7 linked regions of the Homo sapiens genome follow. The protein of the gene in region 5 purifies or fractionates together with the protein of the main gene of each other region. This does not show direct contact. Each region holds a gene or a part of one and is shown on either strand. Other genes may lie near its edges. The genes, in order: SATB2, ADAR, WRNIP1, MAP2K3, FOXA3, ARMC6 and NCAPG.

Evidence for each region.
Region 1: the proteins of FOXA3 (region 5) and SATB2 purify together in Homo sapiens (affinity purification with mass spectrometry; one large-scale study listed by BioGRID and IntAct). This does not show direct contact.
Region 2: the proteins of FOXA3 (region 5) and ADAR purify together in Homo sapiens (affinity purification with mass spectrometry; one large-scale study listed by BioGRID and IntAct). This does not show direct contact.
Region 3: the proteins of FOXA3 (region 5) and WRNIP1 purify together in Homo sapiens (affinity purification with mass spectrometry; one large-scale study listed by BioGRID and IntAct). This does not show direct contact.
Region 4: the proteins of FOXA3 (region 5) and MAP2K3 purify together in Homo sapiens (affinity purification with mass spectrometry; one large-scale study listed by BioGRID and IntAct). This does not show direct contact.
Region 6: the proteins of FOXA3 (region 5) and ARMC6 purify together in Homo sapiens (affinity purification with mass spectrometry; one large-scale study listed by BioGRID and IntAct). This does not show direct contact.
Region 7: the proteins of FOXA3 (region 5) and NCAPG purify together in Homo sapiens (affinity purification with mass spectrometry; one large-scale study listed by BioGRID and IntAct). This does not show direct contact.

What each region holds. Positions count from the first base shown.
Region 1 is NC_000002.12:199,269,005-199,272,939, forward strand, and holds the end of SATB2 (DNA-binding protein SATB2), read right to left. Parts: intron 3,669-3,935; coding exon 3,207-3,668; 3' UTR 501-3,206; downstream 1-500. UniProt on the Homo sapiens protein: Binds to DNA, at nuclear matrix- or scaffold-associated regions. Thought to recognize the sugar-phosphate structure of double-stranded DNA.
Region 2 is NC_000001.11:154,581,557-154,584,186, reverse strand, and holds the end of ADAR (double-stranded RNA-specific adenosine deaminase), read left to right. Parts: 3' UTR 1-2,130; downstream 2,131-2,630. UniProt on the Homo sapiens protein: Catalyzes the hydrolytic deamination of adenosine to inosine in double-stranded RNA (dsRNA) referred to as A-to-I RNA editing.
Region 3 is NC_000006.12:2,768,393-2,771,892, reverse strand, and holds part of WRNIP1 (ATPase WRNIP1), read right to left. Parts: intron 3,203-3,500; coding exon 3,011-3,202; intron 1,836-3,010; coding exon of another isoform or gene 1,780-1,835; exon of another isoform or gene 1,774-1,779; coding exon 1,532-1,773; exon of another isoform or gene 1,517-1,531; intron 1-1,516. UniProt on the Homo sapiens protein: Functions as a modulator of initiation or reinitiation events during DNA polymerase delta-mediated DNA synthesis. In the presence of ATP, stimulation of DNA polymerase delta-mediated DNA synthesis is decreased.
Region 4 is NC_000017.11:21,305,211-21,308,710, reverse strand, and holds part of MAP2K3 (dual specificity mitogen-activated protein kinase kinase 3), read right to left. Parts: intron 1-3,500. UniProt on the Homo sapiens protein: Dual specificity kinase. Is activated by cytokines and environmental stress in vivo. Catalyzes the concomitant phosphorylation of a threonine and a tyrosine residue in the MAP kinase p38.
Region 5 is NC_000019.10:45,870,812-45,874,297, forward strand, and holds the end of FOXA3 (hepatocyte nuclear factor 3-gamma), read left to right. Parts: intron 1-1,263; coding exon 1,264-2,247; 3' UTR 2,248-2,986; downstream 2,987-3,486. UniProt on the Homo sapiens protein: Transcription factor that is thought to act as a 'pioneer' factor opening the compacted chromatin for other proteins through interactions with nucleosomal core histones and thereby replacing linker histones at target enhancer and/or promoter sites.
Region 6 is NC_000019.10:19,040,103-19,043,602, reverse strand, and holds part of ARMC6 (armadillo repeat-containing protein 6), read right to left. Parts: intron 918-3,500; exon of another isoform or gene 893-917; coding exon 726-892; intron 1-725.
Region 7 is NC_000004.12:17,838,479-17,841,978, reverse strand, and holds part of NCAPG (condensin complex subunit 3), read right to left. Parts: intron 2,304-3,500; coding exon 2,142-2,303; intron 1,909-2,141; coding exon 1,770-1,908; intron 1,373-1,769; coding exon 1,286-1,372; intron 793-1,285; exon of another isoform or gene 1-792. UniProt on the Homo sapiens protein: Regulatory subunit of the condensin complex, a complex required for conversion of interphase chromatin into mitotic-like condense chromosomes.

The sequences.
Region 1 (3,935 bases), on a different chromosome or scaffold from region 5:
AAAAAATCATTTTCACACATTTCTCAGATACATCAATCCTTTCAGCATTCCTCCATGCACACATTATGGTACCCCAGCTCTAAATATAAAAGACTTTTATTATGTCCATTAACCATGGACATATGTGCTCCAAAAGTTTCCTGACACGCAGTCATTTGTGGTTTTTTAATTATAAACAGAAAATATTCACTAGAAAAATAAAACAGCAGCCTATAAATATATCTTTATACATTTGAGTTTTGTTTGTATATGACAAAAGATTGGATAAAGGAAGTGAGCATGCATGTGTTTATATACACACAGAGACACACATACATTCACATGTGCTATTAAATCCATGCACTGTACAGGACTCATATATCTGTAATTGCAGGTACCACTGTCTTGTTTCTAAAATAAGGGTACAAATTTTCCTAAGACTCACCAGGTCTCTCTCTGCATGAAAAATTAAGTGGGAAAGCAGATAATGCCCAGTAAAATAACTGACAAACAAAGTCATATTTATTGAATGCGTTTATTTTAACAACCAAAAAATTCTAACAGCCTAACAATGCACATAAGTTAAAAATTAATTATCACTTAGTGATAACAAAGATAGTTGATTTACATGGAAAAAAGAACATTTACAATATGTTAATCCTTATTCACATTGTTGATACCGCAATAAAACACAATTTGTTTTTTTCATTTCACAAAAAAAAAAAAAGGCGGGAAATTGTGCTTTGTCAAGAGGCACTACAAGAGAAAGTTTCTTCTTCCAAATAGATATTATATGACAGATATTGAATAAATAGACATATATGCATTGTAATTCGCAAAGATCTGGCAAGACCACAGGCTAAAATGCCCACAGATTCACTTAGAACCACTGCAAACTTGGCAGTGAAATTAAAAAATAAAAGGCAAGACTTAGCATTGAAAAATACCTAATAAATTTTTGGTTGAAGTGTAAAAGATACCAAATGCGGATGCCATCGATAGATGAACCACCTTGTAAGAGCTTGGCAAAATCAGTTTCCATTACGTGTACAGAGTGACCTTCAGCAACAGTGTAAGAAGACAATTTGGAAAGAGTAACTCGGAGATCAGGAAGCAGCAACCATGGACTTTCTGATTAAAGCTGCAGCATACTACAGAAATAGGAAGGATGGGGCCAGGGCTAACTGCAAACAACCATCCTTTTGCAAAGGTATATGACGCTTATGTCAAGATAATTTTTAAACATCATTATTTGAAAAAGTACAGGAAAATGTCCCTTTAAAAACTCCAGAGGTTACTGAGCAGCTAGAATTAGCTTGTATTGCAACATGTCTTCTCCCTGTATATTGTAAGTTCTGAGTTAATATCTACACATAGAGGTTTTTTTTTTAACTCCTACCTTTTATACCTTTCAAATATATAAATAGTATTAACAGTTATATTACAATGTTTGTGTAGTAAACAGAAAATAACTTTCAAAGTGATATTGCATGAGGTCTTTGACAAGGTTTTGTGAAAGCACAACTCAAAAAAAAAAAAAAAATCCAACCATGTGGGACTGTTTAATGGCCAGTTTAAAGCATGGATTACGTTCACTAGGCCAGTCCTGAATGTGAGGTCTCCTCTTGCAATTACTGTAAGTAGAAGTGGAAAGTAATGCTTCTGGTGTTTCTCATAGGAAGCCGAAAGAGATCTGGAGTACTATAGTAGATTGCAGCTTTAATGCTCATCCCATTAAACATCCAGTCAGCATTAGTTCTGCTTTACATAAGGTAATTGCGATGTAGGTAACTGGGATAATGTTTTCTTTTAGGATGAGTAAGTGATTCTACTGAAATCGCTTCACATACTCTATTGCCTGGAGCTGCACAACGATTCAAAAACAGTTCTTGTTAGGGCTGTCATCCCAGGAAAAGGGACAGGAGAGATCAGGGACTGAAAATGTTTGATTAGGTAGATGGAATGTGTACGAAGAAGAGGAAGCCCAAAGTGAAGCAGAAATCAGAAATGTCTTTTGGGAGAGGGAAGGATGGAGATTTATTTGAGAGGGAGCCCCTTTAACTGGGCAGCAACTTCTTTTCTAACTTAATATTACACTGAACTATTTTCTAGTAAAAAACAAAAAGACAAAAAAACAGCAACAACAAACAACTTTTAAACGAGCAGGCTTATTAATTTTCAGATTTGAAGCCACAAGCAGGTAAATAAATTTCACAACAAAATGTGGCTCATACTATGAATTCCATATGTCCAATGTCAAAATGTCATTTGATCAAGACTTGCACTAGTGGACAAAGTTTTCTCTGCACTGAATTTCAGTTTTACTTATTTGGAATTCCACAGAAATGCATCTGTTCACTACAGTAATGACAAATTGAATAACGGAACGTAGCAAGTCATTTTATTGAGTCATTTTAAGTGTGCATTGTGTCTTTAAGATTTATTTGACTTGTATCATTTTAATGTGCCCTGATTGTTTTCACTTCACTTTTTTTTTTTTCGGCAGTGTCGTTTATTTTGTTAAATACATACCTCAAAAATTACCCATTAAGCTGCCAGATAGGAAGCCATAGAATTAAAAAAAAAAAATCAGGGACAAACACAAAAAATAAATAGGAATTCAAAAATAGTCACCCCACCCTGAGAGCAGGCCGCAGTTTATCAAAAAGCCAAAGCGACTCACTGTGAAGTGGTTTTTTTAATACATAAACAAGTCTTTTCTTTAAGAACTCATTTCACAGTCTATTCTTTCGGATTGCAAAGTCTCTGTCCCATGCAATTTTAATATATATATGTAAATATAGAGATATATACATATACATATACACACACACTTGTAGCTTCCTTCATTTATTTCATAGTTCTTTTCATCCTGGTACTTGCCTGATGTAACTTCCGTTAAGTGCAAGGATAATGAAGGCAGAGTCTCCTGTGATTATAATGACTATGATCCAGTCATAGAGACGGGATAAAGTGTAACGCTTTAGTGTCTTTGCCAAGGCGATGTCTGATTCGGAAATACTGAACTTATTCAGTCTATAGGTGTATCCTGTGCAACAAAGAAATGTCCAAAAGGGTAAGAAAAACAAAACAGACATAAAAAGACAAAAATAAAGCCAAAAAAACCCAAAAACAAAAACAAAAAACAAACTAACAAAAAACTTTTAAAGAAATGAAAGCAGAAAATCCTTGGACCGATGTATTGCTTTGCCTAGTAGAAGTTCACATTATCTCTGGTCAATTTCGGCAGGTGCTGCCTTGCTTTTGTCAGCATTTTCCTCCTCAGCCTCCACTTTGTACATCTCCTCGGAGCCTTCCTCGCTGTCGTTCTCCTCTGACTCGGTCAGCAGCTCCTCGTCCTTATATTCAGCCACGTCCACCGCGGAGCCCAGGTGCTCTTTCAGCTTCCCGTGGTGCTTCACGTGGTACCGCTGGTTCTGGAAGAACTTGATGATGGTGTGTTTGGGGAGATCCAGCTGAGCCGAAAGAGTGTGGATGGCTTCCTGGTCTGGGTACAGGCCTACATCATGAATAAAGCTTTGGAGGATCCCCAGGGCTTCTAAGGAGATCTTTGTGCGAGACCGGGGCTTTTTGGCACAACTGTCTTCAGTCGGAGGAGGTGGGGGAGGCGCTTCTTCTCTGGGAGGGGAACTCTCCTTGGCTGGCTGAGACTGCTGTCTATGAAGTACCTGATAATTAAGAGAGAAAAAAATGAACACTGGACTCATGATTTTACCTTTCCAAAACCATCAGCCCTCTGAAATATGTGTTATCTATCTAGCACTGGAGGTAAGCTATAGTCATTTGTAAAGTCAGGTCTTTGGAAAGCTTAAAAGCATTTCTGGACATTTAGTATCTCACCTACAAAACAGGAGGTTCATAACAGTAGTATTTGCCATCATTTATATTCTGAGATGCAAAGTCAAGTCATTTATTGCCTAAGGTCATCTCACTTT
Region 2 (2,630 bases), on a different chromosome or scaffold from region 5:
CAGCCATCCTCCCATCCTGCACTTTAGCCAGCTGCAGGGCGGGCAAGGCAAGGAAAGCTGCTTCCCTGGAAGTGTATCACTTTCTCCGGCAGCTGGGAAGTCTAGAACCAGCCAGACTGGGTTAAGGGAGCTGCTCAAGCAATAGCAGAGGTTTCACCCGGCAGGATGACACAGACCACTTCCCAGGGAGCACGGGCATGCCTTGGAATATTGCCAAGCTTCCAGCTGCCTCTTCTCCTAAAGCATTCCTAGGAATATTTTCCCCGCCAATGCTGGGCGTACACCCTAGCCAACGGGACAAATCCTAGAGGGTATAAAATCATCTCTGCTCAGATAATCATGACTTAGCAAGAATAAGGGCAAAAAATCCTGTTGGCTTAACGTCACTGTTCCACCCGGTGTAATATCTCTCATGACAGTGACACCAAGGGAAGTTGACTAAGTCACATGTAAATTAGGAGTGTTTTAAAGAATGCCATAGATGTTGATTCTTAACTGCTACAGATAACCTGTAATTGAGCAGATTTAAAATTCAGGCATACTTTTCCATTTATCCAAGTGCTTTCATTTTTCCAGATGGCTTCAGAAGTAGGCTCGTGGGCAGGGCGCAGACCTGATCTTTATAGGGTTGACATAGAAAGCAGTAGTTGTGGGTGAAAGGGCAGGTTGTCTTCAAACTCTGTGAGGTAGAATCCTTTGTCTATACCTCCATGAACATTGACTCGTGTGTTCAGAGCCTTTGGCCTCTCTGTGGAGTCTGGCTCTCTGGCTCCTGTGCATTCTTTGAATAGTCACTCGTAAAAACTGTCAGTGCTTGAAACTGTTTCCTTTACTCATGTTGAAGGGACTTTGTTGGCTTTTAGAGTGTTGGTCATGACTCCAAGAGCAGAGCAGGGAAGAGCCCAAGCATAGACTTGGTGCCGTGGTGATGGCTGCAGTCCAGTTTTGTGATGCTGCTTTTACGTGTCCCTCGATAACAGTCAGCTAGACACACTCAGGAGGACTACTGAGGCTCTGCGACCTTCAGGAGCTGAGCCTGCCTCTCTCCTTTAGATGACAGACCTTCATCTGGGAACGTGCTGAGCCAGCACCCTCAGATGATTTCCCTCCAAACTGCTGACTAGGTCATCCTCTGTCTGGTAGAGACATTCACATCTTTGCTTTTATTCTATGCTCTCTGTACTTTTGACCAAAAATTGACCAAAGTAAGAAAATGCAAGTTCTAAAAATAGACTAAGGATGCCTTTGCAGAACACCAAAGCATCCCAAGGAACTGGTAGGGAAGTGGCGCCTGTCTCCTGGAGTGGAAGAGGCCTGCTCCCTGGCTCTGGGTCTGCTGGGGGCACAGTAAATCAGTCTTGGCACCCACATCCAGGGCAGAGAGGTCTGTGGTTCTCAGCATCAGAAGGCAGCGCAGCCCCTCTCCTCTTCAGGCTACAGGGTTGTCACCTGCTGAGTCCTCAGGTTGTTTGGCCTCTCTGGTCCATCTTGGGCATTAGGTTCTCCAGCAGAGCTCTGGCCAGCTGCCTCTTCTTTAACTGGGAACACAGGCTCTCACAAGATCAGAACCCCCACTCACCCCCAAGATCTTATCTAGCAAGCCTGTAGTATTCAGTTTCTGTTGTAGGAAGAGAGCGAGGCATCCCTGAATTCCACGCATCTGCTGGAAACGAGCCGTGTCAGATCGCACATCCCTGCGCCCCCATGCCCCTCTGAGTCACACAGGACAGAGGAGGCAGAGCTTCTGCCCACTGTTATCTTCACTTTCTTTGTCCAGTCTTTTGTTTTTAATAAGCAGTGACCCTCCCTACTCTTCTTTTTAATGATTTTTGTAGTTGATTTGTCTGAACTGTGGCTACTGTGCATTCCTTGAATAATCACTTGTAAAAATTGTCAGTGCTTGAAGCTGTTTCCTTTACTCACATTGAAGGGACTTCGTTGGTTTTTTGGAGTCTTGGTTGTGACTCCAAGAGCAGAGTGAGGAAGACCCCCAAGCATAGACTCGGGTACTGTGATGATGGCTGCAGTCCAGTTTTATGATTCTGCTTTTATGTGTCCCTTGATAACAGTGACTTAACAATATACATTCCTCATAAATAAAAAAAAAACAAGAATCTGAATTCTTAGAAAGTTTTAAGTCCTGGTTTCTTGGGGGAGGTGAAAATGGGAACAAAGGGACCTGTGGCCCTGGGGTTTCTGATAACAGCACCAGTGGCATCTGACATGAACCTGTGGGGGACAGGGCTGTCCCTCAGCCTTTGGAAAGGAGCCATTTCAAAGAACCTCCCTTTGTGGGTAAATTTGCGTCTGGGTGGGGTGGGGTTCATCAGGCACCTTTTGATTACGTACCCAGCAGGGCCCTTCCCCAGCAGAGCCCACGATTGATTGATTGATTGATTGATTGATTGATTGATTTAGAGATGGAGTATCACTCTGTCTCTCAAGCTGGAGTGCAGTGGCGCGATCTCGGCTCACTGCAAGCTCCGCCTCCCGGGTTCACGCCATTCTCCTGCCTCAGCCTCCCGAGTAGCTGGGACTACAGGCGCCTGTCACCACGCCTGGCTAATTTTTTTGTATTTTTAGTAGAGATGGGGTTTCACCGTGTTAGCCAGGATGGTCTCAATCTCCTG
Region 3 (3,500 bases), on a different chromosome or scaffold from region 5:
AGTACACAGAGCAAAGAACACACAGAAACATGAAACATGTTAGGATTTCCCCCCTTTTCTTTCAATTTGTCTTTACCATGTGGTTCTATGCGTCTGTAATGAGAATTCTGTTACGGGAAACCTACACATGAGTATCCCACATCTGAAGTGCCTGGGACCAGAAGTGGTCTGAATTTCCTATTTTTTTGATTTTAGAATATTTGCATTATATACTTACCAGATGAGCACCCAAAATCCAGAAATCTGAAGTGCTCCAATAAGCATTTCCTTTCACAGCATCATGAAGGTGCTCAAAAAGCTTTAGATTTGGGAGCATTTTGGATTTCAGATTTGGGATACTCAACCTGTACTACATATGAGGAGCTGGCAGCCCCCTTAGGCTCTGACAAATGCCCACCACATAAAGCACTTCTGAGTATGAGTCCATGTGGCTGATACCACAGGTTCCACACACTGCTTGTGGCCACAGATGTAATGGCTATCCCCATCACAACGGTATTCCAAAACAAGGCCACTCTGTCCTACCCAGTGGTCCACGGGCCAAATGTTTCAATGCTTTCATTAGACACAGCAGAATTCTCCCTCCATCTCAGACAGGAGCAAATGGGGCCAGACACATAGGGAGAGCCTGGTGAAACCTAAACCCTGAGCCTAAACTATGCCTTGTACTTTAATCCTCACAGAAAAGTGGCTCCAGAACTTGGCCTCAGGGCAGGCACGAGCAGCTGCAGAGTCCACAGCAGGAGGAGGTGGGCAATAGCCTCTCATCACACCAGATTATGTTCCATGGCAGTATTTCAGCCAACGTATGAACAAATACCATCTGAAGAATATGTTCTAATATTAAAAAAAAGGAAAACCCCTGACCCAAGAAATCAAATTATCTATGATATACACTTGGTGCATTAACGAGCTCATGTGGTACTCATGATGCAGAAATAGGTCACTAAAAGGATAGGGACAGCCTATAATGTCATATTCAGTTAACATTCCTTTACTTTCATGAAACTGAGTTTCAACTACACAAAAAGGATTACATAATTTTAAGGTTACAAGTTAATTTTTACTTGATTTTTTTTTTTTAACAAAATGCTAAACTGCAGGTTAAAAAGAAATTGAAACATGAGTACAATGCTCAAAAGAGTTGTATGGTAAGTCTAGAAAGTATTTATCTATCTATTTGTTCTATTCAATGAGGGACATAAAGCCTTTCAAATCATCAATAAGGCTTCCCATAGAAGCCTAAGCACAAAAGCAAACACCCAAGAACCAAAACAACAAAGCAAAGTTAAAGCTTGAAGAATTATAGAAACACATATTAGAGGCTGGAAAATGCATCTTCAAGTGTGCAGGGATAACTTTGTTAGGTATAATCGAACATTTCCCTCCTCTTTTATTTTCATTACGGGCGGATCAACATTTCTTCTCTGTCCCCACCCTCTCCTCACTGACGCCCGGCCCTTTCTGGCCCCCTGCCAGGAGACTCTCTGGGAGGTGTGTGCCCCCAGGACGCTGCACACTGTCAACTTACTCTGAGCTGCTGTTGCTGCTGTGGCTCAGAGGGTCAGTGGGACGGCTAGAGTCTAGGACGTGGATTCCCAGGGAGTTGATCGCTCGCATTAAAATAGTCACCATTGCCTCTACTGGAAGCTTCTCAAGAACAATCACTCGACAGCGGCTCAGAAGAGCAGCGTTGACCTGGAAGGAAGGGTTTTCAGTGGTTGCCCCAATCAGAGTGATCGTCCCACATTCCACGTGAGGAAGGAAAGTGTCCTAATCATGGGAGGAAAACAGAAAAAAGTGATTCCAGTCAACAGCCACCTGCAGAATCCTATGTAAGTTGGCTATCCCTTCCTTCCTTTTCCTCATTTTTATCTTTCGAGTTCAGGAATAGCAGCAGCCTTATATTCACTGAATATAGATGCAATATTTGGGGGAGTACAACTCTTGCTTTTAAGTCTGAAACACATCTTCTGGAATGCCCGTCCAAGCCTGATCTCTTGCTGGTAGACTAATAGCTTTAAGTAGAATTCTAGCTTAGTTTCAACATAAATGATTTCTTTACTCAGAAAACCATCTTCTACCAAAGGCTGAACTGGCACATAGCTTATATGTAACAGCTATTTATTTATAGACAAGAACACACAAAAACATTAACACTTCCAGAATCTTCTTCCACAGCAAGCACTCAATCATATTATTATTATTCCTATTATGCTGTTTTATGGGGAAAAAATACTAAGATGAGTCAGTGGTCCAATATGAAACCTAGAATGCTAACGCCTCGTCAGAACTTTAAAAGGGTCTTTTTATTCAAAAAGGTTCAAAAAAGGCTCAGTAGAGTTTTGTGAAATATTCTATGTATGATTAAAAAGTTACAAAAAAAAATTTTTTAAAGTTATGCCTAAAAATTTAATTTTTTTTTATTTAGAGTATAGCTCTCAGATCTCAGCCCAATAAAATTTTAATGTTTATTTTTTTTTAAATCCCTAAGTGGCTTTGTTTATAAAAATAGCTTGTGTCCTTTTATTTCAGAAACCCATTTAAATAAACAGTAATCATTAGCTCTTCCAACATTCACCTTGAAGACAGAGCCTGGAGTTACAGAAAATACCGATTGTTTAATTTTCAAAATAAAAATACTGTTAAAGTAATTTTTAAAAACCCATTAAAATAATGACCTTAAAATCATTATTTTACTGTTCACAATGACTCCTAGTATTTAGATTAAAAATTCCTAAAACTGGAAATTTGATTCAAAGGTGCTTTTCTGATACGTATAGCTCAGGGATATGCCAACCATTTCATTTATCAGATAGAGAAAGCATTTTCTTGTTATCAAAAAACACTAAGAAATGTATGGAGAAATAGGCTTGAAGGAGATGGGTTCACAAGCCTACGCTTCTTTGTAAACAAAGCTCGTAAGTCTCTAGCGTTTGTATAGTGATCTCACACACTTTATATTGTTTGATGTTCACAACGACCAAAAGGTAGAAGGAAGTTAATATACCTGCTGAGATTTATTGAACCGATGAATCTCATCAATAAAAAGGATGGTTTTCCTTTTGAAAAAGCTCTTTTCATTTTGAGCTTGTTTTATGACATCTCGCACATCATTTGTCTTGGCATTTGTTGCAGATAATGTCACAAACCTTATGCTATGTTTCTTGCTGTTGCTGGCTATGATGTGAGCCAGAGTGGTCTAGAAAAGATGACATACATGGAGTTTGAAAAGCTGGTAAGACACAGAGAGACCAGCACCCATGGGAACCACCACACGCAGCATCACTATTTACCAAAAGCAACTTGACCTCGGAAGAATGCTGAGCAGCACAGAAACAATCAAAAATACCACAGGACATTTAAAAACAACAACAACAAAAATATTATAAATAAAACAGGAAAGTAGCTAAACCTTAGGCTAATCCTGACCTTTTCTCCTCTGTCCCTAACCACCTTTGATTCCTTTTTGGGTGACTCTTTAAGATCTTTGGAATCCC
Region 4 (3,500 bases), on a different chromosome or scaffold from region 5:
GAACTTGTCCTTTGCATCAAACTTAGGACTTGGAAAACTGTTATTGCAGATACAGCACCTGCCTTCAGCCTGAATATTCCTCTCCACCTCAAAAAAAAAAAATTTTAATTGAAAAATTACATGTCACCAATTAAAGAAAATTGAAGGTATGGCCCAGTCCCACCTCTCTGACAAAATTATTTCGACTTTGAGTCTTTCCCAGTCACTGTCTACAGATACACTATTTATAAAGTTACAGCCACAGGCCAGGCGCAGTGGCTCAAGGCTGGGCGTGGTGGTTCACGCCTGTAATCCCAACACTTTGGGAGGCTGAGGCAGGTGGATCACCTGAGGTCAGGAGTTTGAGACCAGCCTGGCCAACATGGCAAAACCCCGTCTCTACTAAAAATACAAAAATTAGCCGGGCATGGTGGCAAATGCCTGTAATCCTAGCTACTTGAGAGGCTGAGGCAAGAGAATTGCTTGAACCTGGGAGGCGGAGGTTGCAGTGAACTGAGATTGTGCCATTGCATTCTAGCCTGGTCGACAGAGTGAGACTCCCTCAAAAAAAAAAAAGGCCAGGCACAGTGGCTCACCCCTGTAATCCTAGCACTTTGGGAGGCAGAGGCAGGCAGATCACCTGAGGTCAGGAGTTTGAGACCAGCCTGGCCAACATGGTGAAACCCCGTCTTTTTTAAAAATACAAAAATTTGCCAGGTGTGGTGGCTCACGCCTATAATCCCAGCTACTGGGGAGGCTGAGACAGGAGAATTGCCTGAACGCGAGAGGCAGAGGTTGCAGTGAGCTGAGATCATGCCATTGCACTCCAGGCTAGGCAACAGAGTGCAACTCCGTCTCAAAAAAAAAAAAAAAAAAAAAAAAAAAAGATAGCCGGGCATGGTGGCACGAGCCTGTAATCCCAGTTACTCAGGAGGCTGAGACAGGAGAATCACTTGAACCTAGGAGGCGGAGGTTGCAGTAAGCCGAGATCGTCCCATTGCACTCCAGCCTGGGCAACAGAGTGAGACTCCATCTCAAAAAAATAAAAATTAAAAATAAATAAAGTTATAACCACATGATGATGATAACAATGGTAGCAGCAACACCAGTAAAACCCACAACACCTGCGTCAACTCTCTACCCACCAGACACTTCTCTTCGCTCGCTCCCAACCCTCCCTCCCTCTCCTCTGACCCAGCCACCCAGGCACACAGCAGGCACAGCCCCACCTCAGGGCCTTTGCACTTGCACCCCCTGGTCTACCCTGCCCTCAGGTCAGCAGGGTGCCCTCCTTGCAGAGGCCTCCGCATCTGCAACAGTGGCCTTCCACCTGTCCCCAGAGCCACCCCTACCTGCTCCAGTCTTCTCCACCCCCGTGGCATAAAAAGGAATTTATTTGGTCTTTGTTCCTGGCATGGAGCTCCTAAAACCCTTGGAATTTCCTGAGTGACAGGAGTGGCTTTGTTATCCACAAGGAGCCTGAGTTTATGCTAATGAGGTGACTCAGGGTAAGGCCCCTAGACAGCCTCAGATGGGGCTGCTCCCCAGAAAACCCAGCTGATTATAGAGGGTGGGAACTCTCAGCATCACCCGCCAACTGATGCTGAGAGGAGGGGGGCCTGGAGACTGTGCTCTATAAAAACTTTCAGTGGGTGCAGTAGCTTGTGCCTATAATCCCAGCACTTTGGGAGGCCGAGGTAGGCAGATTGCTTGAGCCCAGGATTTCAAGACCAGCCTGGGCAACATAGTGAGACCCCTTTTCTACAAAACATTAAAAAAGTAGCTGGGCATAGGGGCACACACCTGTAGTTCCAGCTACTCAGGAGACTGAGGTAGGGGGATGGCTTGAGCCTGGGAGTTCAAGGCTGCAGTGAGCTGCGATGATACCACTGCACTCCAGCCTGAGCAACAGAGTGAGACCCTCTCTCACAAAAAACCTCTCCATGTGAGGCTGGGCGTGGTGGCTCATGCCTGTAATCACAGCACTTTGCGAGTCTGAGGCGGGCAGATCACTTGAGGTCAGGAGTTCAAGACCAGCCTCGCCAACATGGCAAAACCCCATCTCCACTAAAAATACAAAAATCAGCTGGGCATGGTGGTGCCTGTAATCCCAGCTACTCGGGAGGCTGAGGCACAAGAATCGCTTGAACCCAGGAGGCAGAGGTTACGGTGAGCTAAGATTGTGCCACTGCATTCCAGCCTGGGTGACAAAGTGAGACTCTGTGTCAAAAACAACAAAATTCCATGAGCTTGAGAAGCCTGTAGGTTCGCAAGCACAGGGAGGTACCAGGAGGGTGCCAGGCCCTGAGAGGGCACGGCAGCTCTGCACCCCACACTCACACCCCTCCCCCGTGAGTCTCTTCCATCTGGTTGGCCCTGAGTTATATCCTTTCTGATAAACCAGTAAACACAAATAAAGTGTTTCCCTGAGTTTTGTGAGCCATTCTAGGAAATTATCAAACCTTACGAGAGGGTCATGGGGACCCCCAATTTGTAGCTGGTCAGTCCAGTAGTATGGGAGACCCGCTACTTCCAACTGGTGTGTGATGTTGGGGGCAGTCTGGTGGGACAGAGCCCTTAACCTGTGGGGTCTGTGCGAACTCCAGGTAGCATCAGAACCGAACGGAACTGCAGGGCACTGGGTGGGTGTCTGGAGAATCCGAGAATGGGTTGCGGTGTTGGAAAACACCCCGCCAGCGCTTCTCACCACATCTTACTGATTCTATCTGACGGCCTCATCCCCAACACCAAACAGTCAAAGGGACTAGGGACAAGCAGGAATGTCCTGGGCCAGGCTTCCCTGGGCAGGGAAGGAGCTGACGCCCAGGACACTCCATTGGTCCCAAGCCACTCAACTGGCCAAGGCCACCAGCCTGAGCCCGACCTGCTGATGGCATCGTCCTTCCACGCGTCTCCTGCACAGCTTCCTAGCCCTGGCTGGGGGACACATCCTGGTGGTCTTCCCATCCCTCCAATCCACTGTCCACAGGGGAGCCAGAGCGGGCTCACCCACACCTTGACCTGAGCCCCAACACGGAAGGCATGGGGTTCTGCCAGGCAACTCCAGAAGCAACTGCTCTGGGCCCATCCCTACACCTGGACTTCGGACTTCTGCCACATCTGCCCTCACCCTACCCAAGCCAGGGATGCCTTTGGCTTCCACAGGCCCAGGATTGAGAGCCCGCCCACCCTTTCTACCACCCCACCGCAATGTACCAGGACGCCACCGACAACAAACCTTCTGCTATGAAATATTTTTGAAAAGATCTTTACCATCTTGCTTTTGCATGATTTACATACCAGGAACTTACGTAATTTGGGATTGGCTGTGATTTCTCAACAAGCACCAAGAACTCCAGAGAAAGCCCTGTGGCCACCATATCACAAAGCACCCAGGACTTCACGATGAGTGACCCTGACCCTAGGAGGTTCCCTTAAATAGATGGTAATTTCTGATGGCACATTTTCTTCTCAGATTTTGAAGCCAATACTTCTTTCCAGAACCTAAACTATTTGATGAG
Region 5 (3,486 bases):
ACCCTCCTTGGCTCCCAAAGTTCTGGGATTACTTTGGGAGGCTGAGGCAGGAGGATTACTCGAGGCCAGGAGTTTGAAAACAGCCTGGGCAACATGGTGAATCCCCGTCTCTACTAAAAATACAAAAAAATTAGCTGGGTGTGCGGTGCATGCCTATAATCCCAGCTACTTGGGAGGCTGAGGCAGGAGGATCACTTGAGCCCCAGAGTTTGAGGCTACAGTGAGCTGCGATTGCACCACTGCACTTCAGCCTGAGTGACAGAGTGAGACCCTGTAGAAAAAAAAAATTATTTAGGAGTCCAAACAGTTTCTGTTGATGTGGGTTATGTCTATCTACGTTTACAGTATTTACAATTAAAACTGAGAAATATTACAAACATGTATTCATTTAAAAATAGCAATCATTTGTTAGTGTAAAAGATTTTTATTAAAAAAACCAAATTTCAAAAAATTTAGTCAAAAGAGCGACACTGTTTTTTTCCATTTTTGCAAATCAAGTCTGGCCCAGTGGAAGACAGCTGGATTCTCCTGGTTGCTTCTTCATTCTCTCTGTTGGAATATCAACACCCCCTGGAAAACTCCACTGTACACTTCATGAGAAAGAGAGTGAAAAGGGCTAATAATAACTTAGGATTGCGGGTGTGGTGGCTCATGCCTGTAATCTCAGCACTTTGGGAGGCCGAGGCGGGCAGATCACGAGGTCAGGAGTTCAAGACCAGCCCGGCCAACATGGAGAAACCCTGTCTCTACTAAAAATACAAAAAAAAAAAAAAAAAAGCTGGCGTGGTGGCACACACCTGTAATCCCAGCTGCTCTGGAGGCTGATGCAGGAGAATTGGTTGAGCCCAGGAGGCGGAGGTTGCATTGAGGTGAGATCACGCCACTGCACTCCAGCCTGGGCGACAGAGCAAGACTCTGCCTCGAAAAAAAAAATAGCATTATTTTGAAAATAGTTTTGACTTCGTGGACATCCTCAAAGGGTTTCAGAGACTGCCCTGGGAGTCCCGAACCCTGGAGAATCACTTAAAGGATGATGTTGAGTGTATGGGAGCATGGTGGGTGGGAAAGCAGGGGGCAGAAAGGGCGTGTCCAGGGAGTGAGGAGAGACCTTGAGAGACTGCTTTCTACAGATAGAGGTAATGATGGAAGGGATTTGTAGAGAAGGCAAGATGGACAGACAGACGGACACTCAGTGGGTCCTGGGATCCTTTGCTGACCAGCAGAGTGGAGCCCCACTGACCCCTCCTTTCATCTTTCCCCTAGGTCTACTCGCCGGTGACCCCAGTGCCCACCATGGCCCCCCTCAACTCCTACATGACCCTGAATCCTCTAAGCTCTCCCTATCCCCCTGGGGGGCTCCCTGCCTCCCCACTGCCCTCAGGACCCCTGGCACCCCCAGCACCTGCAGCCCCCCTGGGGCCCACTTTCCCAGGCCTGGGTGTCAGCGGTGGCAGCAGCAGCTCCGGGTACGGGGCCCCGGGTCCTGGGCTGGTGCACGGGAAGGAGATGCCGAAGGGGTATCGGCGGCCCCTGGCACACGCCAAGCCACCGTATTCCTATATCTCACTCATCACCATGGCCATCCAGCAGGCGCCGGGCAAGATGCTGACCTTGAGTGAAATCTACCAGTGGATCATGGACCTCTTCCCTTACTACCGGGAGAATCAGCAGCGCTGGCAGAACTCCATTCGCCACTCGCTGTCTTTCAACGACTGCTTCGTCAAGGTGGCGCGTTCCCCAGACAAGCCTGGCAAGGGCTCCTACTGGGCCCTACACCCCAGCTCAGGGAACATGTTTGAGAATGGCTGCTACCTGCGCCGCCAGAAACGCTTCAAGCTGGAGGAGAAGGTGAAAAAAGGGGGCAGCGGGGCTGCCACCACCACCAGGAACGGGACAGGGTCTGCTGCCTCGACCACCACCCCCGCGGCCACAGTCACCTCCCCGCCCCAGCCCCCGCCTCCAGCCCCTGAGCCTGAGGCCCAGGGCGGGGAAGATGTGGGGGCTCTGGACTGTGGCTCACCCGCTTCCTCCACACCCTATTTCACTGGCCTGGAGCTCCCAGGGGAGCTGAAGCTGGACGCGCCCTACAACTTCAACCACCCTTTCTCCATCAACAACCTAATGTCAGAACAGACACCAGCACCTCCCAAACTGGACGTGGGGTTTGGGGGCTACGGGGCTGAAGGTGGGGAGCCTGGAGTCTACTACCAGGGCCTCTATTCCCGCTCTTTGCTTAATGCATCCTAGCAGGGGTTGGGAACATGGTGGTGGGTATGGCTGGAGCTCACACCACGAAGCTCTTGGGGCCTGATCCTTCTGGTGACACTTCACTTGTCCCATTGGTTAACATCTGGGTGGGTCTATTACTTACTGTGATGACTGCTGTCTCAGTGGGCATGGTGTTGATCCACGGGGTACTGTGATAACCACCATGGATACATTTTGGTGGCCCACTGGGTACTGTGAGGACTGCTACATTGATGGATGTTATTGGCTAATCCACTGCATGGTTTGATGGCCACCATCTCGGTTGGCCCTTTGGGTGTGATGGTGATAGCATTTCAGTGACATCTTCTTTGGCCCCCCCCATTAGGTGCTGTGCCCACTTCTTTTTTGGTGTACTTGGCACAGTAGGTGCCAAGTTGGCCACCATTCTGTGTAACACCTTTTTTGGCCCATTGGGTGCTTTGATGGACATCATACTGGGTAGGTGACAACGTCAGTGGGCCACCATGTGCCATGATGGCTGCTGCAGCCCCGTGTTGGCCATGTCGTCACCATTCTCTCTGGCATGGGTTGGGTAGGGGATGGAGGTGAGAATACTCCTTGGTTTTCTCTGAAGCCCACCCTTTCCCCCAACTCTGGTCCAGGAGAAACCAGAAAAGGCTGGTTAGGGTGTGGGGAATTTCTACTGAAGTCTGATTCTTTCCCGGGAAGCGGGGTACTGGCTGTGTTTAATCATTAAAGGTACCGTGTCCGCCTCTTACTGAATGTCTCTTTTCCTTGGCCAGTGGGCCCTGTGGGGCTTGAACACCTGAATTTCTGCTCCTCTGTCCCTTCTGCTTCCTGCCCCTAAGAGCTGGCTGCCTCTGGGGGAGGAGTTGGGGGAGGCATCGACCTGACCTTTGGCTCTTTGCTGTCCCTGACCCCAAGGACAGTTTGCTCACAGATAGCAGCCCCCGCAGCAGTGGGGCCAGAGCAGCAGGGGGAGGTGGCTCTGCAGTGACCAAGGCCATCTCCCCACCCCCACTTCTCAGACATACACACAGACCTCTACCTCTGAGGCTCTGCAAGCCTAATGGCCGAATAATCTTTGGCTAAGCTGGGGAGGAGGAAAAAGGACAGATGAGGTGTCAATTCAATGACTGGAGATCGTGCACATGTTGGAGTTTATCTGCGTGTGTGTGTGTGTGTGTGTGTGTGTGTGTGTGTCCTCTGTGTGTCATAGGATAGCACTATGCCTATTGGGGTCCTCATGGTCTACCG
Region 6 (3,500 bases), about 27 Mb from region 5:
CCCACAGGGAGCCCCTACAGTGCTGGACGCTTTTGCTTGTCCCACTGGCCCCTGTCTAGTGTTCTATACCCCACTCTGTGCCTAGGAGGCTGACCTCTGACCTCTCAGGCTGTACCCTGGGTTTGTTCAATGGGGAAGTGAACTTGAGATGGGGGCAGGAGGAGGGGAGTGTGGGGTGTTCATTCCCAGCCCCCTGCCTCTGCCCCAGGGCCCAGCACCCATCATGTGGCCCCTGCCCAGGACTCCTGCTCCCTGCAGTCAGGGTCTCTGCCGGAGCTAGTTGTGCTAGGGGTGGTCTCCTAACCCCACCCACACCATTGCAAACAGCCCCTCATAACCACACTCATCTGCACCTGGTCTGAACATGCCACCTGTTTCCACAGGCTGCTTCTGCCTCTGTAAGCTCGAGGTAGGGTAGAGTAGGGCAGGGAGGCAGGGGCCCTGTTTCCCAGGCCAGGGTCAGGGAAAGTCTCTTCAAGGAAGTGATCAAATGAGACTCATGAGAAGGATCCAGCCCACAAATATCTGGGCGAGGTGGAAGCAGGTGAGAGGTGGGAGCAGGATAACCAGCCTGCCTCGGGCAGAAGCTGGAGGGGACAGGGCCCAATGGCACCTGGTTTCTATGCCAGGCATGTGGCACCCCCAGTGGGGCGGGGCAGCAGGGCTCTCCCACTGCTCTTGCATCTAAGAGCCAAGGATGGTAGGTGACAGTCACACCACCCTACCTTGCGATTCAAACTGCTCCACGGCCTCTTTCACTGCCTCCTCTGGCCCCATCGCAAACTCCTCGATGTTCTCGCGCACAGCTGCATCAAAGGTCTCCTGGGCAATGCGCTTGGAGACCATCTTCGCCTGTGTTGATGTTGGCGTGCAGCCGATAGATGCTCCTGAGCTGAGAGGTTAGGGCAAAGAGAGAGCTACCTCAAGGGTGAGCAGGCAATGGCAGGGCCTGGCCACCTTGAAAACGCCACTTAGGAAGCATCTACCAGCGACCAGAGCCCTACAACCACCCTGGAGAAATTCTTCCCACCTGTTATCACAGGAAAGGGTGATATCCCTACTTCCCTAGAACTTCTGCAAATACAGAAGAGGCCGGGTGTGATGGCTTAGCCTGTAATCCCGGCACTCTGAGAGGCCGAGGTGGGAGGATCACTTGAGCCTGGGAGGTCAAGGCTGCAGTGAGCCATGATCACACTACTACACTCCAGCCTGGGCCACAGAGTGAGACCCTGTCTTGGGAAAAAAAAACAAAGTGTAGGAGAGAACACAGAGTTTACTACATTTTATCTAAGAAAGGTGGTTCTTTAATATAATGATACTAGTAATGTTATTCTGAAACTATTACGGATGTAGCAAATAATAATGATTATCTTATTAGGAATCAGAATAAAAGAAAAAAGATTCTGGCTGGGCGCAGTGGGTCAATGCCTATAATCCCAACACTTTGGGAAGCTGAGGCAGGAGGATTGCTTGAGCCCAGGAGTTCAAGACCAGCCTGGACAACATGGCAAAAGTCTGTCTCTACCAAAATAAAAATAAAAATTAGCTGAGTGTGGTGGCACATGCCTGTAGTCCCAACTACTCAGGAGGCTGAGGTAGCAGGATCGCTTGAGCCTGGGAGGCCAAGATTGCGCCACTGCACTCCAACCTGGGCAACAGAGCAAGCCCCTGACTCAAAAAGAAAAAAAAAAGATTCTAACATCGTACTATCAACTAAAAACTCGGAACTCCCTATAATTAACAATATTGTATGGTATACTTGAAATTTGCTAAGAGGGTAGATTCTAAGTGTTCTCACCACAAAAAAGAAAAAGGTAACTGTTGATTGAGGTGAGTATTTCACAATCTGCATGCATATAAAATCGTCAAGTTGTATAATGTAAACATATGCAATATATTTGTATCATTTATGTACCATATATAGTATAAGATATACACTATATTAAATACAATTCGCTGGGTGCAGTGGCGCATGCCTGTAATCCCAACACTTTGGGAGGCCGAGGCAGGTGGATGACCTGAGGTCAGGAGTTTAAGACCAGCCTGGCCAGCATGGTGAAATCCCATCTCTGCTAAAAATACAAAAATTAACCGGGCATGGTGGCGGGCACCTGTGATCCCAGCCACTCGGGAGGCTGAGGCAGGAGAATCATTTGAACCCAGGAGGCAGAGGTTGCAGTGAGCCGAGATTGCACCACTGCACACCAGCCTGGGCAACAGAGCAAGATTCCGTCTCAAAAAAAAGTACATCCTATACCTCGATAAAGTTGAGAAAAAAAATCTCAGAACTCCTATATATGAAATGGGAATATCCATATAAACCCATCATGTGTTTTCTCTTAGGTAAACAAAGATCTAATTTTCTAGTCATAGCAACTAAAAATGCCTAGGAGAAATGACAGCACAGGAGCACTGAATACCTCTAACACCATGTATGGTTTCTACCATTTCCCACGAAAAGGAGCTGGGGCCAGGGCTAGGTGGCTCACTCCTGTAATCCCAGCACTTTGGGAGGCTGAGGCAGGAAGATGGCTTGAGGCCAGGAGTTCAACACTAGCCTGGACAACATGGGGAGGCCCTGTCTCTACATAAAATCTTTAAAAACAAGGAGCCAGGGCTTCTGGAGGAATGGCTGATTCCAAGTCCCAGCAGGTCATGGGGCAGGTAACGCTGGGGTCTTGTGAGACCAGGAAGCAAGGAAGCTTCCAAACCCTAAGGGATGCCTGGTAGCTACAGATGAGACAAGTGAGCATTAAAAAAAAATCCAGTACATATCAAAATCAAAATCTGGGCCAGGTGTGGTGGCTCACGTCTGTAATCCCAGCAATCAGGGAGACCGAGGTAGGAGAACCACTTGAGCACAGAGGCGGAGGTTGCAGTGAGCCGAGATCATGCCATTGCACTCCAGCCTGGCTGACAGTCAGACGATGTTGCAAAAAAAAAAAAAAGTCAAACTCTGTGCTTTCATAATACTAAAACAAATACAGCTCAGGCTTCTGAAAACTGGCCAAGAATCCAGCTCTTGGCAGGGAGTGGTGGCATGCTCTTGTACTCCCAGCTACTACTCAGGAGGCTGAGATGGGAGGATCACTTGAATCCAGGAGTTCAAGACCAGCCTGGCCAACGTAGCGAGACACTGTCTCTACAATAATTAGTAACAATTTTTTTAAAAAAAACCTAGCACTTAACCTGCCTCCCTTGTACAAATGAGTCCCAGGTTATAAAAAGAGGATGAGGAAAAGTTCTGCTTCCGATTCCAGCTGATCAGCTGTGACAGGAGAGAAACAGATAATGATCCCACAGGATCCAAAACCATCAGGTGTAAAACTGATGGGAGCCCAACAAGGGGTAGACAGGAACTCAGTCTACTGCTTGATCTCACATCATCAAGAGAAACCAGCAACACCTACCTCCTGAACAAGAACAAAATGCACCTGTGAAGTCATCGTGCCAAAATCTCAAACCCGAATCTGATCATGCATTCAGGGCACTTCCTGCTA
Region 7 (3,500 bases), on a different chromosome or scaffold from region 5:
GCTATAGCACAAAGTCTGTGGAGACTCATGAAAATTAAGGGTTAGAAAGGTAGGTTAGGTGCATAAACAGGTGCTAAAGAAACAACTTTTTTTTTTCTTGGAAGGTGATAAAACATAGTAAGGTAATAATGGCTTCTTGTAAAATAACATACATGACCAATTCAAATGTGTTCTAAAATATATTTCAATGTAAAAACTAGAACCTTTATATACTGGGGATTATAAGATTCTACTTACTAGAAATTTACAAGGTTAAGGAGTAAGACAAAGTTTGGCTTGTGATGTTTCTCATTTATAAGGAATAAAACAATATGAATATATGAAGTTTGGTCTATTAAAAAGGATGGTGTTCTCATGGTGTGATATACCACAAAAAAAATCTGATCAAAACCAAACTGTTCAATGTGACAGTCTGAAAATTATATACTCTACTTCATTCATGTTACACTTTTTTCTACTCCTTACCTGCTTTTACTAATGCATTTATCCCCAAGAAAACATCCAACAATATGGGACTAATTTGGAACAATATCCAGCAATTGGTATTTAAATAATTTACTGGTTACAAAACAATATTATGACCAGACTCCATTTTAGAAAAAATTAAATCTGCATCGAAAAGGGCCTTAAAAAATAGATTTCTAAAATCAAAATCATGGTTGGCTCATGGGTGGGATTATTAGTGTTCCTTATAGTAGTTTGTCTGGATGTACTTTCTGATTCTTCTGTAATAAGCATGCATTGCTTTTGTAATGAGGAAATAATAAAACAATAAAAAGATCTTGAATTTCAGATTTTTTTCCAAGTGACCCCCTAATAGTCAGCATTTACTTTGCCAACAGATCCCCTATTGTTGGATAGCCCTTGGGAAATAAGTTGGGAAAATATGAAATAAGATGGGAATAGAAGGAAAACAAAGCCCAGAAAAATACTACAGGGATTTTTTAAAAATGCTTAGTTACAGGAAGGATAGAACACAAATAACTAATATAAAACCATCATTTAACCAAATCTTAATTTAACCCAAATTGTCTTTTGTAATATCTTTTGCATCATACTTCTTTCAATCTAAAGCACCAAGAGCAACACTGATTTTATAATCTTTAGACACAAGGCAAAAACTGACATCCACAGAAAGAATTAAAAAGAAAGGATACCAAAGACATTTTAAAAAAAATCTTTATCCCTAAGGAAACAAAGATAAGAAAACTTGCAAAACAAGTATTTTTCATTGGAAGATAAAATTTAAAACTTTTATCATAAAGATGGTCAATCCACACACTACCTCTGTTAGTCTTTAGCTGAGTAGACTTTGATGCTTGGGTTGCTTTTACACCCCTGAGTGGAGTCATATATACTTCTTTATTCTTTTCTATTAAAGGGAATAATACAACAATATAAATAAGATAACCTCATGAAATATTTTAAATTGTCTTTTTAAGACCAGTTTTTATAAAACTGAAATGACAAAGTCCTTCTAGCAGCTAGTGAAAAGTTATAAATCACCCTTTCGAAAATTTGAATATTGGAAAAAGAAGCAAAACTCTTAAAAAGATGGTCATATGTTGAGAAATGCATGCCAAAAAACACTTGAAAAGCAGAATAAACATTTATCAGTAATGCTCTTTCCCAAGAGGATTAATTAGAAAAAAAATTTCATTCATTTCTGATGTCCAACCAAACATGTTAGAGTAGAAAAAAATATGTCTCAGTAAAGATGGAAAAAAAAAAACAGAACCTTATAAATATTCTGTTCAGTATGTGATTACCATCTTCATTTTGGAAAGTAGTTGTAGTCAAGGTGGCATCCTGTGCTGCTTCAGCTTGGTCACCAAATTCTTTATTTCCTTTTTCTAACTGAATCTTGATTTTCTCCAAAGCTCTCAGACATGTCCTATCTTTTACTTGCTATAAAAGAAAACATTATTAACATTTTGTAAACACCGCATTCCCTAATCTTTGAAAATAGTACCAATACATATCAAGTTGTTTAAAAACACTAAATTATATGAAATTTATGAAGAAAATACTTCAAATAAGTCACAATATGCTAACATATGTATAATCTAATACAACCATGTAAATTCTACATGTATAAATATAAACACAAACTAATTTAGAGTAATGAGAAACTACTTTACCTCCAGAATCTCATTCAATAGAACCAGAAGATCTTTTGCAAGATGGCTACTGAGTTCTAAAGAACTCAAGGCTTTTGTATAGACTCGAATTTCTGGCGAGCACGGACTTGTTAAGATCTCATTGCAAATTTTCATAGCCAAATTGTCATGTACTGTTAAGGCCTAAAAAATTAAGAGAAAATTCTCTGTAAATTGAAGATGATTATGATTATTATATAGTCTTACACATCTAACAAATATTTCCAACTAATTTTCTTGCCATAATCCCAAATATAAAATGTCTAAAACCAAATTTAACATCCTCCCTACCCCCAAAATAAGCTCCCCTTCTTGACTTCTTGTTGTGGATGTTGTGATATAGGGCCCAGTTCCACTCCCTTTAGGAAAGATGCACTCATCCCCCAGTTGCTGCATGTTTTGGAGGGTAAAAGTTCCCAGCTGCAGTACTGATCCAGGCTGACAATGGTGGACTTTGGTGGACCTTGTCCAAGATCATACCTCTTCTCCCAAAGATTTGTCCAAATCCAATGACTGGCCCGTGCACAAGTACAGTGTTTCAGCTTGTCTCCATTCTGGACAACTCAAAGGAACATCCCAGTTCCGGAACTCCCTATGGGATTGGCTGGGGCCTTTGTTTGCATAGCAGTAGTTGAACTTAGGGCTATGCCCCAATCTACTTTTCCCTTACTCTTCCAAGACACTGATCATGAGAGTACTCCCCAATTAAACTATGTCAACAGCTCCTTTGAAGTCTGCTGTTACACATACTTAGAGTTTTCCTGGACTCCTCCATCTCCCTTGCCTCTCAAGCTCTTTCTTTTAGATTCTTGTACCCATAATTCTTTATTAGGTCAATTTCTATTCTTTCTACTATTACTTTCTAGTACTTTTTCTACAAGCGAATTATACAGATTTTCAGCTGCTTTCTTTATTAATATTCTTTTCTTTCTGCTCACCAATTCATCTCATATAACCACCACTGACCACCAAATTAATCTTTCCAATAAGTGGTTTTCATGACATTAACCCTTTCATCATAAGCCCTGCATAATTATCCATTGCACATAAGGCCAACTCCAAATTCCCTACATTGGCCTTTAAAGCAATCTATAATCTACCCCCAGTGTTGTGCCCTAACAGTCCTATTCAGGATCCTTAGCCAAAGTCATCTTTCTACAGTTCCCCAATATTTGCATAACCATCTACATATATCACCTTTACTAAAACATCCTTCCTCTACCCAAACCACTCCCCAAATACCAACAAGGCCTAACTGAATTTTGGTCAATGAGTTTTAAAACTAATGCTGTACTCATCATTCCTACCACATGACTCTTGCCCTTGTCTCAAGTCATGAAG